Regions from separate parts of the Homo sapiens genome. Here region 1 is linked to region 2. A link means that fine-mapping ties the variant in region 2 to the expression of a gene that starts in the linked region. Tissue or cell type: vagina. Region 2 holds a variant in brackets; the other region holds the start of a gene. All regions are shown on one strand. Distances are from middle to middle.

What was found. PIP is the estimated chance that this variant, and not a neighbour inherited with it, causes the effect.
Region 1: FRRS1L starts here. The variant in region 2 is fine-mapped to the expression of FRRS1L in vagina (GTEx, PIP 0.96).

The regions. Positions count from the first base shown.
Region 1 is chr9:109,162,884-109,170,985 of GRCh38, forward strand. FRRS1L (ferric chelate reductase 1 like) reads right to left here and starts at 4,366. Exons shown (of 5, transcript NM_014334.4): 1 at 4,018-4,366. The coding sequence starts at 4,255.
Region 2 is chr9:108,216,042-108,224,149 of GRCh38, forward strand. The region is part of intron 4 of LOC105376214 (a long non-coding RNA gene); the gene reads right to left. Among named protein-coding and RNA genes, the nearest start is that of ACTL7B, 640 kb to the right of the region's middle. The variant G/A (reference allele first, on the strand shown) is at 3,462.

The DNA.
Region 1 (8,102 bases), 950 kb after region 2:
CAGAAAATCCTTGATTGAGCCACATTTTACGAGTAGTCAGATGACTATGCCTTAAAGATAAGTGACCATAAATGATGTTCTGTCTTTTCCTTCTTAGGCAGGGTATGGCTCCAAGGGTCAGGCGGTTAACATCATCCATGTAGCTGGCTGGATTAAGACTGAGGGTCTGCTTCCCAAACCTGGCCATCTTAGCAGCAGGGAGAAGCAAGCTTCATTTGGGACTTAACCCTTAGCCAACATCCAACTCAGTTTTGTTTGTTTTTCCCCAAAGAACCCTCAGAAGTGAGCATTTGCCCATAATCAAATGGTAATCTGTTTCACATTCTATCATTGCTCTGAATATATAGACTCTGGGTTAAGAACCTCAAGGGAAAGAAGTATGAGTGGTAGGATTCAAGCACTAAGATCCTATCTGAACTCCTGACCATAGACAGCAAAGAGGGTCACGGCAGACTGTGTGCTGTGGAAGAATATCTTCTGTGGGAGAAGGAGAAAATCAGGGAAGGCTTCCTGAAAGAGGTGACATTTGAGCTGAGACTGTAAGCATGAGTAGTATAGGCTTAGACAGTGGGACCCTCAAAGAATTCTGAACACTAGCATAACTTAAGTTTTTAAAAATGACCATGTTAGGGGGTGATCATTTTCTTGAGACAGCAAATTAGCCAGCATCCTGCCTCTGGATTTGAGGGTTTTGGGCAATCTGGATACTGGGGAAATAGTCTCTGGGTAGGGTAGGTAATGGTCAGTAGGCTCTCTCTCAGTTTCAGTGGATTTCCATTCCCACCTCCACTATTCAAATTCCTTTTTTTCTGATTTTTGAACTCAGTTTCATGACTATTTGAGACATAAGAAGGGGGTACCCTGCACAGAGGGAACAAGTAGCCTAGTCACTAGAAATGGACAACCTCAAGTGTATTGATAGAATAAGTCAAAGGCATTACCGGCACTTCTTCACTTGCCACGTCCTCCAAGGTCAGTCAGGTTCCCTCCTTCCTTCTCCACTGAATCTGTCCTAGGAGAGTTCCACCCATAACCTCTCATCTCCTGAAACCATCGATAATTTTGAGCCTTCATGCTATCAGGCCACACCTTGGTAGGAAACAGGCTCTTTTCCTTTGCCTTCTGGGACACCCCTCTCTCCTGGTTCTTCTTCCCTCTCTCTGGCAACCCCTCCTCAGCCCCCGCTTTTAAGGCAATGTCACTGTTTATTTCTAAGCGTCTTGGGAAAGTCTCTATTCAGGACCCACAGGGATGAAGCCTAGGCCCAGGGTAATCTAGCAGAGGCACTGCCTCTGATAGCCCCACGCCACTTACATCTCAACTAGCACCCACCGGATGGTGGTAGAATCTGTATGCAAAGAGGAAATGAAACTGTCAGAGAGAAGAGGGTAGGAGAAGAATGGAGAGTAAAAGCTCAGGGTGAGGGAAGGGGAGATATGGTTGTAAAAGGAAGTTGAGCCAGGGAGGACATTTCAGATAAAGCAGTTGAATATTCATTCAGGGAGCAGGTTGATTTTTTTTTTTTTTTTTTGAGACCGAGTCTCACTCTGTTGTCCAGGATGGAGTGCAATGATGCAATCTCAGCTCACTGCAACCTCCCCACCTCCTGGGTTCAAGCAATTCTCCTGCCTCAGCCTCCTGAGTAGCTGGGATTACAGGCGTGCACCACCACGCCCGGCTAATTTTGTATTTTTAGTAGAGACGGGGTTTCACCATGTTGGCCAGGCTAGTCTCGAACTCCTGACCTCCTGATCCACCCACCTCAGCCTCCCAAAGTGCTGGGATTACAGTCGTGAAGCACCACGCCCGGCCCCATCACAGACTTTTGAGTGCAATGCCAACAGGTTAGAGGCAGACTTCAGGAGGGTTAAACCAGTTTTATGTGCAGAATGGTGGGGGCGCGAAGCAGACACACTAGGGATCGGTACAAAGCCCTGCTGCCTGCTATGTGATCACCTCACCTAAATGCCTTCCCTCTTCTGTGTCACTGAAGTCTTTCCTACTTCATGGCTTGACTCTATAAAAGCTGTCCTTGATGGCTGTGGCCCACCTGATGTCCACATTCATAAAACTTTCTGGACTATACAATGAACATATCATTCTCTCTGCAGAGAGACTCAAAGGACGTACAGAATCTGAGCTTATCCTTCATTTGTTAGATGCATGAGCCCAATCAGAATACAAGTTCTCACATACCACATTTAAGTCACCTGGCAGCACTAGGCTGTGTACAGTGTAAAGATACATTAGATGCTTTCAGAAACAGACGGGCTTCGGAATATTTATTCTTTTCCAGAGTGACAGATTCCGCCACATGGCTCTCCAGCTAGAAGACTACATTTCTTAGTCTCCCTTGAAGCTAGGTCATTGTAACTATGTTTTTGCCAAAGGAATGTGAACAGCAGTAATGTGGGCAGCCAGCCTAAAAGGTAACTACTTGCCCTGAACTTCTCTTTTTCTTTCCCTCAATCTTGAACAAGGACATGCAACCTGGCTTCTACTGTACTGATGAGGACAAAGCCTCAGGGGGATGGCAGAGCAACAAGATGGAAAGAACCCGGGTCCCTGAATGACCTTGCGGAACAGAGTCATCCCACCAGCCCCAGACCAACCAGACTCTTATCAGAGAGAAAAATAAACTAGCTTATTTAAACCACTATATGTTAAAATCTCTAATTCAGCAGTTAAGCCTCTACTTAATACATTTCCCCAAATCCATTCTCTCCATCTTCTTTAATACAATAATTCTGATTTTTGAACTGGGCATATTATGTCTCAGCTAATAGGCTCTATTTTACATCCTCCTTTGTACCTATGTGCAACCATATGATTAAGTTGTGGCCAAAGAAGTATAAAAATTGTTATATGAAACTTCCGAGTAATCCCTTTATAAAGTAGTCAGTGACCTTCTTCCTGCTTCATTTTTCCCACTGTCTAGAATGTGAACATAATGGCTGTAGCTCAAGCAGTTATTTTGAACCATGAAGTTACATGCTAAGAATTGTGAAGAAACAGAAGGGCAGGATCCAGAGACACTGGTGACCAAGGAGCCTCCAGACCAGTTCTGGATTACCTATTTCTAGTTTTCTTTCTGTAAGAGAGAAACTTCTATCTTGTTGAAGCTATTAATGTTTGCTTGTTGTATACAGCTGAACTTAATCCTAACAACAGACACATCCACTAACAGATATGAGCTCCTGGGACTCAACACTTCAAACCCCAGCTTGATGGTTGGATATCCCTCTTAGCAGAAGAAAAGGAAAGTCACTACTTCCCAAAGTTGCTTAAAGAGGCCAGTTTCCATTCCTTCTGACCACCATCCGCTTGGCTTTTGTGCTCGTTGAAGCAGCTCTACAGGGAGGCCCTTGGCTGACAAACTCCCAGTCTGCGGGCCCAGCAGGCCACAACAATGGTGGCTCGCACTAGGGGACCATAACATATGTGGCGTCATAAAAGAGGAGGGATGGGAGTGGGGAGGCTGATGTGACCCAGCTCTGACGGGTCAGTGAGCAGGAACAGAATGCTACGAGGTGGGCGCTGGTCACTGCAAATTTAAGTCAATACAGACAGGGAGGAAATAAGGCAACCTCTCTCTTTAGGTTGGGGTTTTTCTGCTTCCCCCTAGCTGCCCTGGCCAGATGGCGGCCTCCTCCCCTATAACCCAACCCCAGGCGGCAAAGGTGGAAGCCAGATCTAAGAACTGGGGGAGCTTAGACTCAGCACCCACCCCTATCCACAGCCTTGCAGAACTTGGATGACCCCTCCCTCTCCCAGCCTCACTCTCCCCATCTGTAAAGCGGGCGGCAGGCATTGACAGCTCTTTGGGCCTTTCCTCCAGGCCGGCGGAGGCCTGGGCACTGCGCTCCCCATCCTGGCCTCGCCTCTGCAAGAGCTGCCTCCACGGACATCTTTTCCGACCCCCTCCCCCTCCCTCGCCCCCTCTCCTCGTTCCCCCGATCCTCGGTCCCCCACCCCCGGTCTCCCCTCCCGCAACCCCTCGCCCTCCCGCAGCCTCACCCTCCTCCGACAGGTAGCGCAGGTCGTAGAACTCCCCCGCGAAGGTGCCGTAGGAGGAGTCGTGGCGCGGCACCGCCTCGTCGGCGCCCGTGTCCCCCCGCGCGCGTCCCCGGGGTCCCCGGCCCCCCGGGCCCGCACCGTCGTCCGCGGGGCTGGCTGCGCAGGCGGCGGGCCCCGTCAGTAGCAGCAGGAGCAGCGACGCCCAGACCCCCGGGTGCTGCCGGGGCGGCCGCGCCATCCGTGCGCACAGATCCCGCAGCCAGGCCGCTCGGGCCGCAGCGGGGGCGCCGCGGGCGCGGGCCGGGACTGAGCCTCCGCCGAGGCCACCAGCACGCGCCCGCGCAGCCGCGGAGCCTCCCGCACCCCCGCCTCCCTGCCTCGGTCTGCGCATCCTCGCTCCAGCACCGCAGCCTCCCCCTTCTTCTTGGAACCCCCCTCCTCCCCGCACCGATCTCTCCTTCCTAGCAGCTTCCCTTCTACCGTCCTTCTTTCCATTCTCCCCATCTCCCCGACTTCCCTCCACGCAGGCAGATTTGGCCCTTCTGGCCCCTTGCTACTCCGGAGTGTGGTCCGCGGACCGGCAGCATCAGCATCACCTGGAAGCTTGTTAGCATCGCTGAGGCCCCACTCCAGACCCATGAAGCGGGATGTTCATTTCATCAAAATTCCCAGGAGATCCCAATGCACGTTCAATTTATGAAACGCTCCTCTAGAGAGTTTACCCTGGACACACCTGGTCAGTGCTGCCTCCTCAACCTTGTGCCGGCACTTTTTGGTTTACATAAAGCACTTGCTAGACCTATTATTTCTTGGATCATCACAGAAGGAACTTGAAATTGCAAGACCCCCACAATAGAGCTAGGTAAACTGAGGTGTTTAGAGACAGAGAAAACTGGATTCACCTGCTTCCTCTCCAGGCTCTTGCGGTGTGTAATCAACAGAGGCTGGTGCCAGTAGGTAACCTGTTCCCCTTCAAAACTAGGCTTCTGGTTTACTCTCTTTCCCTGCAGCAAGCACGCGCAGGCCTTGGAAGGCCCACACCGTATCTGAGGGCCATGCTGAATTGTTGATTTTTCTCAAATCCATTCCTGCTGCTTGCAGTTCACTTTTGGCTATTTACTCAGCCATCCATTGATTCACACCAAGCATTTGCTTTATGGCAGGTCCCAGGGTTCTCTTTTGATGATGGTTGTTGGGGTGATATATTCGAATTGCTAAGCTGTTTTCCATCAGAGAGGCGGACGCAATTCCTTTCAGGCTGGTGTTGCAGAGCCAGCATTTTAACCTGCTTTTCCTATTTTATTATTTTATTTTATTGCATAAACAAAATAATTATGGAGGCAGAAAAGCATAGAGGTCCCAAATGCAGACCTAGAAGTCAGACTGCCTGATCTCTCATGATTAGTCATTGACATGATGCAATGAAGATTAGGGAAGATCATAGAGGTAAGGATCAATAGGGTTCAGTGCTGTAAGTGGCATGCACACATGTACACAATATTGTGAAATGTTAATATTCAAAAGGAAACTAGTGATCTTAACCCTTTATGGCCTGATTGGCTGAGAGATAAGGGTAGTGCTGTTGAAACAGGGGAGACATGATGGGGGACTTAGAAGTCAGGTATTTTCTATTAGGTATCAGCTAACAGTGGGCTGTCCAACTGGAATTTAAACATATTAATCCTGATGGCTGAATTGAGGTGTAATTCATGAAAACCTTGGGCTTCACTAGGTCCCCCAACATAGCAGTTGTCACAAAAAATAGATCAGATTATTTGAAAAAGGTAAGATGAACTATGATTACTTTAAAAACTCAAGAGACTTCTTCCCAAAAAGCATAGCGTGGCAATGCATAACATTCTAAAAAAGCTGATCCAACAGATTGAAAATCTGTTAAAGTGTAGTCCTTCAAAAAAAAAAAAAAAAACAAAAACAAAAACAAAAACCTTAAACCTTTCTTAAAAATTAAAATTTCTTTATTTTCTTTTCTTCTCTTTCTGTTCACCAGGGAAGGTATGGTCAACTTAGAATGGACCAAAGTTTAGCCAAAAAAATAAAGCATTAGACTTTTGATTTCAGTGTAGATTCTCTGGTTTGGGAATACAAGCTTTTACCTCTTACTTTCCTTTTTATTCCCTTCATTTTGGTTACTGAAATTAACAATAACGGTGCCCAAATAGAAGGCAAATGAAAACCAGGCCATTCTTCTCCGAGTAAATTAATCTGATATAAAAACACGTGGGCAGCCGGGCACGGTGGCTCACGCCTGTAACTCCAGCACTTTGGGAGGCCGAGGCGGGCGGATCACAAGGTCAGAAGATCGACACCATCCTGGCCAACACGGTGAAATCCCGTCTCTACTGAAAATACAAAAAATTAGCCGGGCATGGTGTCGGGCGCCTGAAGTCCCAGCTACTCGGGAAGCTAAGGCAGGAGAATGGCGTGAACCTGGGAGGCGGAGCTTGCAGTGAGTCGAGATCAGGCCACTGCACTCTAGCCTGGGCGACAGAGCAAGACTCCATCTCAAAAAACAAACAAAAAACAAACAAAAAAACAAAACAAAACAAAAAAAACCACCACCACGTGGGCTTTCTATATTGTTTTTATGGGGGTATTTGGGTATTTTGGGGACGGTTTACAACTACAGCCTAAAATGAAGTTTGCAGGTAAACTGTGGATTTCAATTCTCTCTCTACTCATGTAGACTCACAGGGGGCCACAGATAGGCTTCAGGGGTGATATGAGGACCTTATGAAAGTGCTGGAATAATGTTGTGATGTATGGGTTTTTCTAGGGAGAAAACCCATAGCTTTTTTTATGAATTATTTTTTCCATGTTCAACTTTTTTTTTAATTTACTTTAAGTTCTGGGATACATGTGCAAAATGTACAGGTTTGTTACATAGGTATACATGTGCCATGGTGGTTTGCTGTACCCATCAACCCGTCATCTAGGTTTTAAGCCTGCATGCGTTAGGTATTTGTCCTAATGCTCTCCCTCCCCTTGCCTCACCCCCCACAACATGCCTCGGTGTGTGATGTTCCCCTCCCTGTGTCCATGTGTTCTCACTGTTCAACTCCCACTTATGAGTGAGAACATGCAGTGTTTGGGAAAACCTATAGCTTTTATGGGTCACTCAAGCCTTATGCCTTTTCAGGGCCCAGCAACCTATTCGGCTCCTTCCATTTCATGAGATTCTCTCCCATCCACTCAAATTGCCTTTGGGGATTTTCTTTCTCTTCATGTTTTCTGACACGATTTAAGTCCTGGAAAGAGTGGAGGCAGACCTATTCCAACCTTAAGCACATGCTCCCCTCTTAGTTACATCCTAGGTTTGCAGAGACCCTCTGTTCCCCACCAATGTGACTCTACAGAACAGCTAAGAAATATTGTAGTTTCCTCTACTGTGCAAATTTTCTGGGGAGGAACTTTGCCTGAACATTCTGAGACCACTGGCTGTACAAGAGCTGGCCACTCAAACAAAAACTTAGAGATGAACCAGATTTAAATTCATTTTCATTTTAAAAAGAAAGACAGTACCTTTATTTTCTCTCCACCTCAAAGCAATTTCTCTGACACAACCTTTTTTGCGATTAAAAACTCCCAAAATCATTGCTGCATCTTGGTATCTGATGAGTAACCGATTTGCCCAGGCTTCTGACTGTCTAGTATATATAATTTTTCACTTTGGATTTTGTAAGAAATAAAAGCTGTGATTGTGGCAGTTCCTTAGAAAGTTAAACATGGAGTTTCCATTTGACCCAGCAATTCCAAGAGAATTTAAAACAGATGTTCACACAAAAACTTGTACACAAATGTTCATAACAATATTATTATTATTATTTTCTAAGACGGAGTTTCACTCTTGTTGCCCAGGCTGGAGTGCAACGGTGTAATCTTGGCTCACCGCAACCTCTGCCTCCCGGGTTCAAGTGATTCTCCTGCCTCAGCCTCCCTAGTAGCTGGGATTACAGGCATGCACCACCATGCCCAGGTAATTTTGTATAGTAGAGATGGGGTTTCTCCATGTTGGTCAGGCTGGCCTCGAACTCCTGACCTCAGGTGATCTGCCCACCTCGACCTCC
Region 2 (8,108 bases):
CTCGAACTCCTGGCCTCAAGTATTCAGGCCGCCTCGACCTCCCAATGTGCTCAGATTACAAGCCACCGTGCCTGGCCTCAAATTATTTTCTTTATTTTGTGGTTCTAATGAGAAAGCCCAGTCAGGAGAAAGAGCCTAGGGGGATGAGTTAATAACAGAACAAAAATAATGCATCAAAAAAGCCAGGAACCTATATCTAGGACACCCTGGTTTGAGGCCCAGTTTTAATATTCTATGACATTAACTTATCTGAGCCTCAATTTCCTCATCTATTAAATCTGATAATTACCACTACTGACCTCACAAGGTGTGTTCCAAATGAGATAACATTTCTGAAAGTGGTTTGTAATCTGTCCCATATGGTTCAGATATAAGCATTGTCCATGAACTAGAAGGAATCTCAATGATTAGGCCAACAGCCAACTCCCAAATAACTCTTTTAATCAGGAAAATTTCACACACCTTCTGATTTCTTCCCTCCAACCTTACAACTCCTACAACACTTCCACGTCTGAATACATATTTCTGCCTTAAACCAAATACTGAGAGATGACAGATTTACCTTCTTCCTTGTTCAGGGAAGCAATGAAAATGGGGAAAGAGAGCTTATTTGCTTATCTTGGGAGGTGTAGCCTGTTAATGAGCAGTTACTTTGTCAAAGGCAGAGAGGGCATTGTACATTGGAAAGGTTAACCACAAAAGGCAAGGCCACCAGATAGAGTTGAAAGGTTGTGTCCTCCACAAGGGTACTCAGCCAAGACAGTGAGAGGGCACTGAAAACCAGCCCGTGTTCCTCTTGCCAAGCCATATGCTCTAACTTAGGGCCACATGCTTTCAGAGGAAGGGAAAAAGAGTTGCCTTTTTCTCTGGACAAAGGTGCCACCTGCTACCAAGACTTATCCTTAAGGTGGTGTGGCCCACTCAGTGGCTGGAGGGCGGGAGGCAGGGAACACACATTATTTTATTTTACAAAAATGGGTAATGGCTCCGACGAAAGCCATAAATCAGGGCTGGGCATGGTGGCTCATGCCTGTAATCCCAACACTTTAGCAAGCTGAAGCAAGAGGATTGCTTGAGGCCAGGAGTTTGAGACCAGCCTGGACAACATAGCAAGATCCCATCTCTAAATAAATATATAAATAAATAAAAAGACATAAATCTGCGGGAAAGGGAGAGAGAAAGTTGAACAGAGACTTTAACAGTATTCCCTGGCTTCCAGTTGGTAGCTCAAAATCAGCATGGTGAAATTTTTACACCACGGAAATAGGCAAAGGCTATAGATCAGGGGTCCCCTTTGGAGGAGGGGGTTGTTACCCTTTGGAGAGGCAGTTGTTAAATATTTGCCACTACTGAATTAAAAAGCAGGCTCTAAGAGGAAGATGAGAACTAAAATGTATAAAGCGCCTTTGGTGTGATCCCTGACACTCATGAAACCTTGTGATACAGCTATTATTACCTGGCATTATAGAGCAAGTAGCTGAAAGTTTTAGAGAAGTTAAATTATTATCTCAAGGTCCCACCCAGTTAGAAAGAGGCAGAACTTGGACTCAAATTCAGCTTTTTCTGGCTGACTCTGAAGCCCATGGTCTTTTCACCACACTATGTGGTTTTGCTAAAACCCCAAGCCCATGATTCTGAGATGGCTCACCGACAGCACTTGCTTATCACATTAATTCTCCTTAGCATTTTTATTTCCCCCAGTGACATTCAGGCATTTTAAAGGCCACTGCGGCACTTCCAGCACATTCATCAGATTTGCTCCCATGGCTCCAACGTCAGCCTCCCCATTAAGATTCATCTTCAAAGAAGCCATCTGAGAGTCAACCAAGTTGGAGTTCAGTAACCACTCTGCGCTTTCTGACATTGGGAAGATATATTACCGTACTCCGGTGACTGCAACGTTTAGAACAGCTTTGGAAGAGTATTGTATCAATTATATTGTCCCTGTGGGAGCCCTATTAACATTAAAATGTCTTATAAGATGAGCTAAACACTTGCACAAAGAAAACCTTTCATATGAGGGCTTCTTCAAATTTATAGTTGTTAAAGCAAAAAAAATCGCCTTGCCTCTCCCTTTGCACATGACACAAGGATAGATGACTCTTCTTAGACTATTTTAAGCAAATTATCTTAGAAAATGAGAGCCCATCTCAGAATATATTATTTCAGGCCAAAGGCAACACCGTGTAGGAGGAGACAGCACGGATTAAAATCACACACATTATCTGGGTTCCGATTCTGGCTCTCCTACTTAGGATATCAATAAAATGATAGCAATTGTAGTAATAATTTAACAAGCAAAAATTAGGGACCAGGGGCTTTCTATAGTCCAAGTTGTTTAATTTCCACAATAATAGTGCAATGGGTATATTATTCTGACTTTAAGTATGGGGAAACCAAGGTTAAAAGAGGTTAAGTACAATTGCAACAAAAGCAAAAACTGACAAATGGGATCTAATTAGAGTAAAGAGCTTCTACACAGCAAAAGGAAACTATCAAGAGAGTGGACAGACAACCTACAGAATGGGAGAAAATTTTTGCAAAGTAGGCATCTGACAAAGGTCTAATATCCAGCATCTATAAGGAACTTAAACAAATGTACAAGGAAAAAAAAACAAACAATTCTATTAAAAAGTGGGCAAAGGACATGAACAGACACTTTCAAAAGAAAACATACATGTGGCCTACAATCATATGAAAAAGAGTTCAACATCACTGATCATTAGAGAAATGCGAATCAAAACCACAACAAGGTACTATCTCACACCAGTCAGAATGACTATTATTAAAAAGTCAAAAAAATAACAGATGCTGGCGAGGTTGTGGAGTAAAAGGGATGCTTTTACCCTGTTGGTGGGAGTGTAAATTAGTTCAGTCATTGTGGAACTATGTGTTCAATCAGTGTGAGGATTCTTCAAAGACCTAAAAACAAAAATACCATTTGACCCAGCAATCTCATTACTAGGTATGTACTCAAAGGAATATAAATCATTCTGTTATAAAGACACATACACGTGTATGTTCACTGCAGTACTACTACATAGCAAAGACATGGAATCAGCCTAAATGCCCATAAATAATAAACTGGATAAAGAAAATATGGTGCCTACATACGACAGAATACTATGCAGTCGTAAAAAAAGAATGAGATCATGTCCTTTGCAGGAACATGGGTGGAGCTGGAGGCCATTATCCTTAGCAAACTAATGCAGGAACAGAAAACCAAATACGGTATATTCTTATTTATAAGTGGGAGCTAAATGGTGAGAACACATGGACACATAGAGGGGAAAAACAGACACTGAGGCCTATTGGTGGGAGGAAGGAGAGGATCAGAAAAAATAACTGTTGGGTACTAGGCTTAGTATCTGGGTGATGAAATAATCTGTACAAGAAACACCTATGACACAAGTTTACCTATATTACAAACCTGCACATGTACCCCTAAACTTAACAGTTAA[G/A]TTAAAAAGTTTAAATTTAAATTTAAAAATGAGGCTAAGTAAATTCAACCAGCTCAGACAGGATGGTAGGCAGCTTCTGAAATGACCCTCAATGACTTCTGCTTCTTGGTATTCATACCTTTATGTAATTTGCTGCCCTTTTTTGTGGACTGGTCCTAGTGACTTTTAGCTAGTAAATAGAATACAGCAAAAGTGATGGGATGTAATTTCCAAGATTAGGTTATAAAAGACTATGACTTCCATCTCGCTTGTTCTCTCTCTTCCTCTCTCACTTGCTTGCTCACTCTGTTGGAGCCAGCTGCCAGGTTATGAGCTGTCTTATCAAGAGACCCATGTGGCAAGGAACCGAGGGTGGCCTCTGGCCAACAGCCCGTAAGGAACTAAATCCTGCCAACAACTACTGAGTGCTCTTGGAAGCAGATCTCACCTCCATTGAGCCTTGAGATGGCCATGATACCTGGGTTCCAGCGTTGTGAGAGGCCAGGGGACCCAGCTAAACTCTTCCCATATTTCTGACCCACAGAAAGTGTGAGATAATACATGTGTGTTCTTTTAAGCTGCTAAGTTATTGACTAATTTGTTACACAGCAATAGATAACTAATACAGGTGGTAAGACACAGAGATGAGGTTTCTAGCCAACTTTCCATCTTCAAAGCACAATCTCATTTTCTTGCCCTAAATTAATTCTTTACAAGCCATATGACCTTGGGCGAATTACTAGAACTCTGAAACCTCTTACCTACATTAATAAAATAGGAATGATGCCCACAGCACACTGATACAGACCAGCTTAAATGAGGCGATATATCTCATTTCATAAGAAGAGATAATGCCTTTGGCTGGCCTGCTGGTTGAAACAGGAAAGATGAGAAAACAGGAAAAGGTTGCCACAGGAGAATGTCTTAATAATGTCGGCTATATACAATGGTGAGTTTTGAAAGACGGTGTCCTGGGAAGCAAAAATTTGGAAGGCACAGTAGCTACATGACCATGGTCCAGGCATTCGACATCACTGATTTTATTCTCACTGGTAGAGCGATAAACATGCCCACCTCACTGGGATGCTCTGAAGGTTAATAATATGACATCATGTTTGTACAACACTTCGGACAGGACCTACATATAAAAGATACTCAATAGATTCTAGCCATTATTGCAATAATTTTCTAGACAGTATTAGTTTTACTAATAAGGATGGCATTTCAGGGACCTGCTGCAGGTGAGTCAAGAAGCATTTCTGGATTGAGGCCTGTAACCCTCATCATATTTTGCAGCTCCTCTTTACTTCTTAAATGCATCAGCTAAGTCCAAGTATTTATACTTTGGTTCCCCATCTCAATCTCTTTTCCCTTACCTATATATCAGATCTTTTTTCTTCTTTTTCTTTTGAGACAGAGTCTTGTTCTGTCACCCATGCTGGAGTGCAGTGGCTCAATCTCGGCTCACTGCAATCTCCACCTCCCAAGTTCAAGTGATTTTCCTGCCTCAGCCTCATGAGTAGCTGGGACTACAGGCATGCACCACCATGCCCAGGTAATTTTTTTTTTTTTTGTATTTTTAGTAGGACAGTTGGTCTCAAACTCCTAACCTCAAGTAATCCTCCCACCTCGGCCTCTCAAAGTGCTGGGATTACAGGCGTGAGCCATGGCGTCTGGCTATGTATCAGATCTTATCGCATAGTTTCTCTATCAGTAGCTATGCTCTACAAAAAAAAATTAAAAAGAGAAAGCCTCCATTTAAATTAAGTGCTTGATTGCCTACTCAGAGATGCTTCTGAGGGATCAAGCATCAAACATCTGAGCCACTGCTAATAGCTATGACTACTATGAATAGAAAACTTGATAGAAAACATGTGGCACTTAGTAGGCACTCATGGTGATCTTCTCAACTAGCAAGAGTAATCACATCTGTCTTGTTTATTTTCATGCCTCCAAGGTCTGGCAGAGGGCCTAGCTTACAGTAGGTAATCAATCAACATGTGCCATGCCAATAAATACACTGGACTAACACTATGTCTTTTTATTCTCCCTAGACAATCCCTATTTGATTTTCTAAAAATTACTTTGTTCATTCAAAGTTTTGGTGTATAGAATTTATTGGCGTATTGGATACATGGGGGGCAATTTTCCTTTCTTCCCCCGCCCCATTATCTGCTCTTAGGTCCTGGCAAATCTGGTTAGAAAATACAAGAATTCCCTTCCCATTCACAGATTCAACGTCCACTCAGTTTCCTAGGAAATGAAATAAAAGGAGACCAAAAAAGTAAATAACAATTGAATAACAACTATGTATGCTTTGCTGAGTTAAGTATAGGGATCTACTTAGGTACTGGAACCACTCAGGCCTAAGTTAGCTAAGGCTCATTTCTACAGCCACAAAGGACAGTCCTACCGAAGCATGCTGTGCCCATTTGCCTTGTTTTTAAACCTCAGATATAATGTGGATGTATTTAAAGGACACTGATGAGAAAAATCATGGATACTAAATTTTACATACCACTCATTTATTTCCCTTTGACTGGTAATCAAAATGGTCTCTCATAAGGCATAATTGTGTAGACGAGAACAATTTGCACAGATGATTTAGGAATGATTATTTTATGAAGGTCATCGTTTCACTGATTTCTCTTTTTTGTGCATTTGTTTAATGGAATTGGGGTGCTAAGGAGTTACAAACAGAGAAAAGACTTACTCAGTTTTTAAAAACCCAGCAAGATGTGAACCATATTTTAGAAATGGAAACAGAGCAGTTGTATTAAAAGAAAAAAAGCTCACAAGACTTAGAATCTAAAATGTATGTGTATGTGTGTGCACACGTGTTCTAATCCTTGCCTTCCTCTAACTCGCTGAGTAAACCTGAACAAATCACTTCATCTCCTACAACTTCAATTTCTTTATCAAATAGACAAAAGCATTCTAATCTCTCTCTGGCCCATTTGTGAATCTTAAAGGAAACACTGCCCATCACAGCGCCTAGCATAGCTCCAGGGAGATAGCAGGTTATGTATTCAGCCTTTGTTAAATTTGCTAACGGCAAATGAAGTCTAGCTAGAAGGCAGCATTGCATAAACCAAACATTTGAGTGGTTAATGGAGAAAGAAATAGAAATCTCCTTTTCCCCTGCATGGTTTGGATTTGGTTTGGCCCCACCGTGTCTCATGTAGAAATTCGATCCCTAATGTTGGAGGTGGGATATGGTTGAAGGTGTTTGGGTCATGGGATTGGTCCCTCTTGAATGGCTTGGTGCTGTTCTCACTGGAGTGAGTTCTCACTCTTAGTTCCTGAAAGAACTGATTGTTGAAAAGTTCTTGGTACCTCTTCCTCTCTCTCTTGCTTCCTCTCCTGCCATGCCACCTGTGCACATGCTGGCTCCCCTTCCCCTTCCACCATAAGTGGAAGAAGCCTGAAGCCCTCACCAGAAGCAGATGTTGGGGCCATGCTTCTTGCAGATCCTACAGAACCATGTGCCAAATAAACCTCATTTATTTATACATTACCCAGCCTCAGATACTCCTTCATAGCAACACAGACTAGGACGTCTCTCTACTCCATTTTCTATTTAACATTGGATGTACTGTCACAATTAAGGGCCAGAACTTTGTGAAAGTTACTACCATAGAAATATGGAGCCAAATTGATAAAAAATAAAATAAACAGCTATTGCATGCAAAATGTTTGTGTTATTTGAACTGAACTTCAATCTTGTGGGTTTTGCTAAAAACATACTGAAAATTTCCACTCCCTCAAAAGCAGTTTTAACTTTTCAGTAAATATTTTATGTCCTCCATTGTTAGACCTAATAGAAGTCCCAACAATTGGAAAAATTGACGCTTGGAAAACTGATAGGTTTACAATAATTCTAGTTCTTCATCCCCCAAAAGAAGTTGATTTGTATTTCAAAGAAGGAGGAGAAGCTGCAGGCTACCAAGGGGACCTCATGCTGTTAGGCGCCCTGCTTTATTCAGAGTTCAAGTCTCTACTGTGAGTTCACCTGTTCTGACAACCCTATAAATGCTGTTGCACCCAAGGGTCTAAGAACTCAATTCTTCTCTCGCTACACACTTGTCTGAAGTGATGGCTTGAATAAACTCATATATGCTTACGAATTCCAAATCACCTTCCCAATGTGCTCAACTCCCCAGCACCTCACGTGCAAGGGCACAATGGACACTTGTCCCATTGTGTCCCATCATGTACTAAACCACTGTCACTTATCTTTGTCTTCACTAAATCTGATTCTATCTCCTCGAGAGTGGCACCATCATCCACTCAGGGAACATGAGCCAGAAACTTGGGAAACTTTTTATGCTTCCCTTCTCCCTAATGCAAGTCATATCGACCTTGCCTTCTGCATTTTCATGAGTCAAACCCATCCCCACCCTGTCTACTGTCACTGCCCAGCTTCACACTCACAACATCTTTTACCTGCCATATTGCAGAATGTTCCTAAAAGATCTTCCTTCCTCTTGCCTTGCCTGCACCAACCCATTCGCCACATGGCAGCCATAGTGATAGTCCTAAAAGGCAAGCCTGACCATGTCACCCTGCTACCTACAATCACTGCATTGTCTCCTGGGTTGGAGGCAACATCACTTGGCATCTTACATCTTACGTGTGTTCATGTCAGATTCTCCAGCCTTAGCTTCT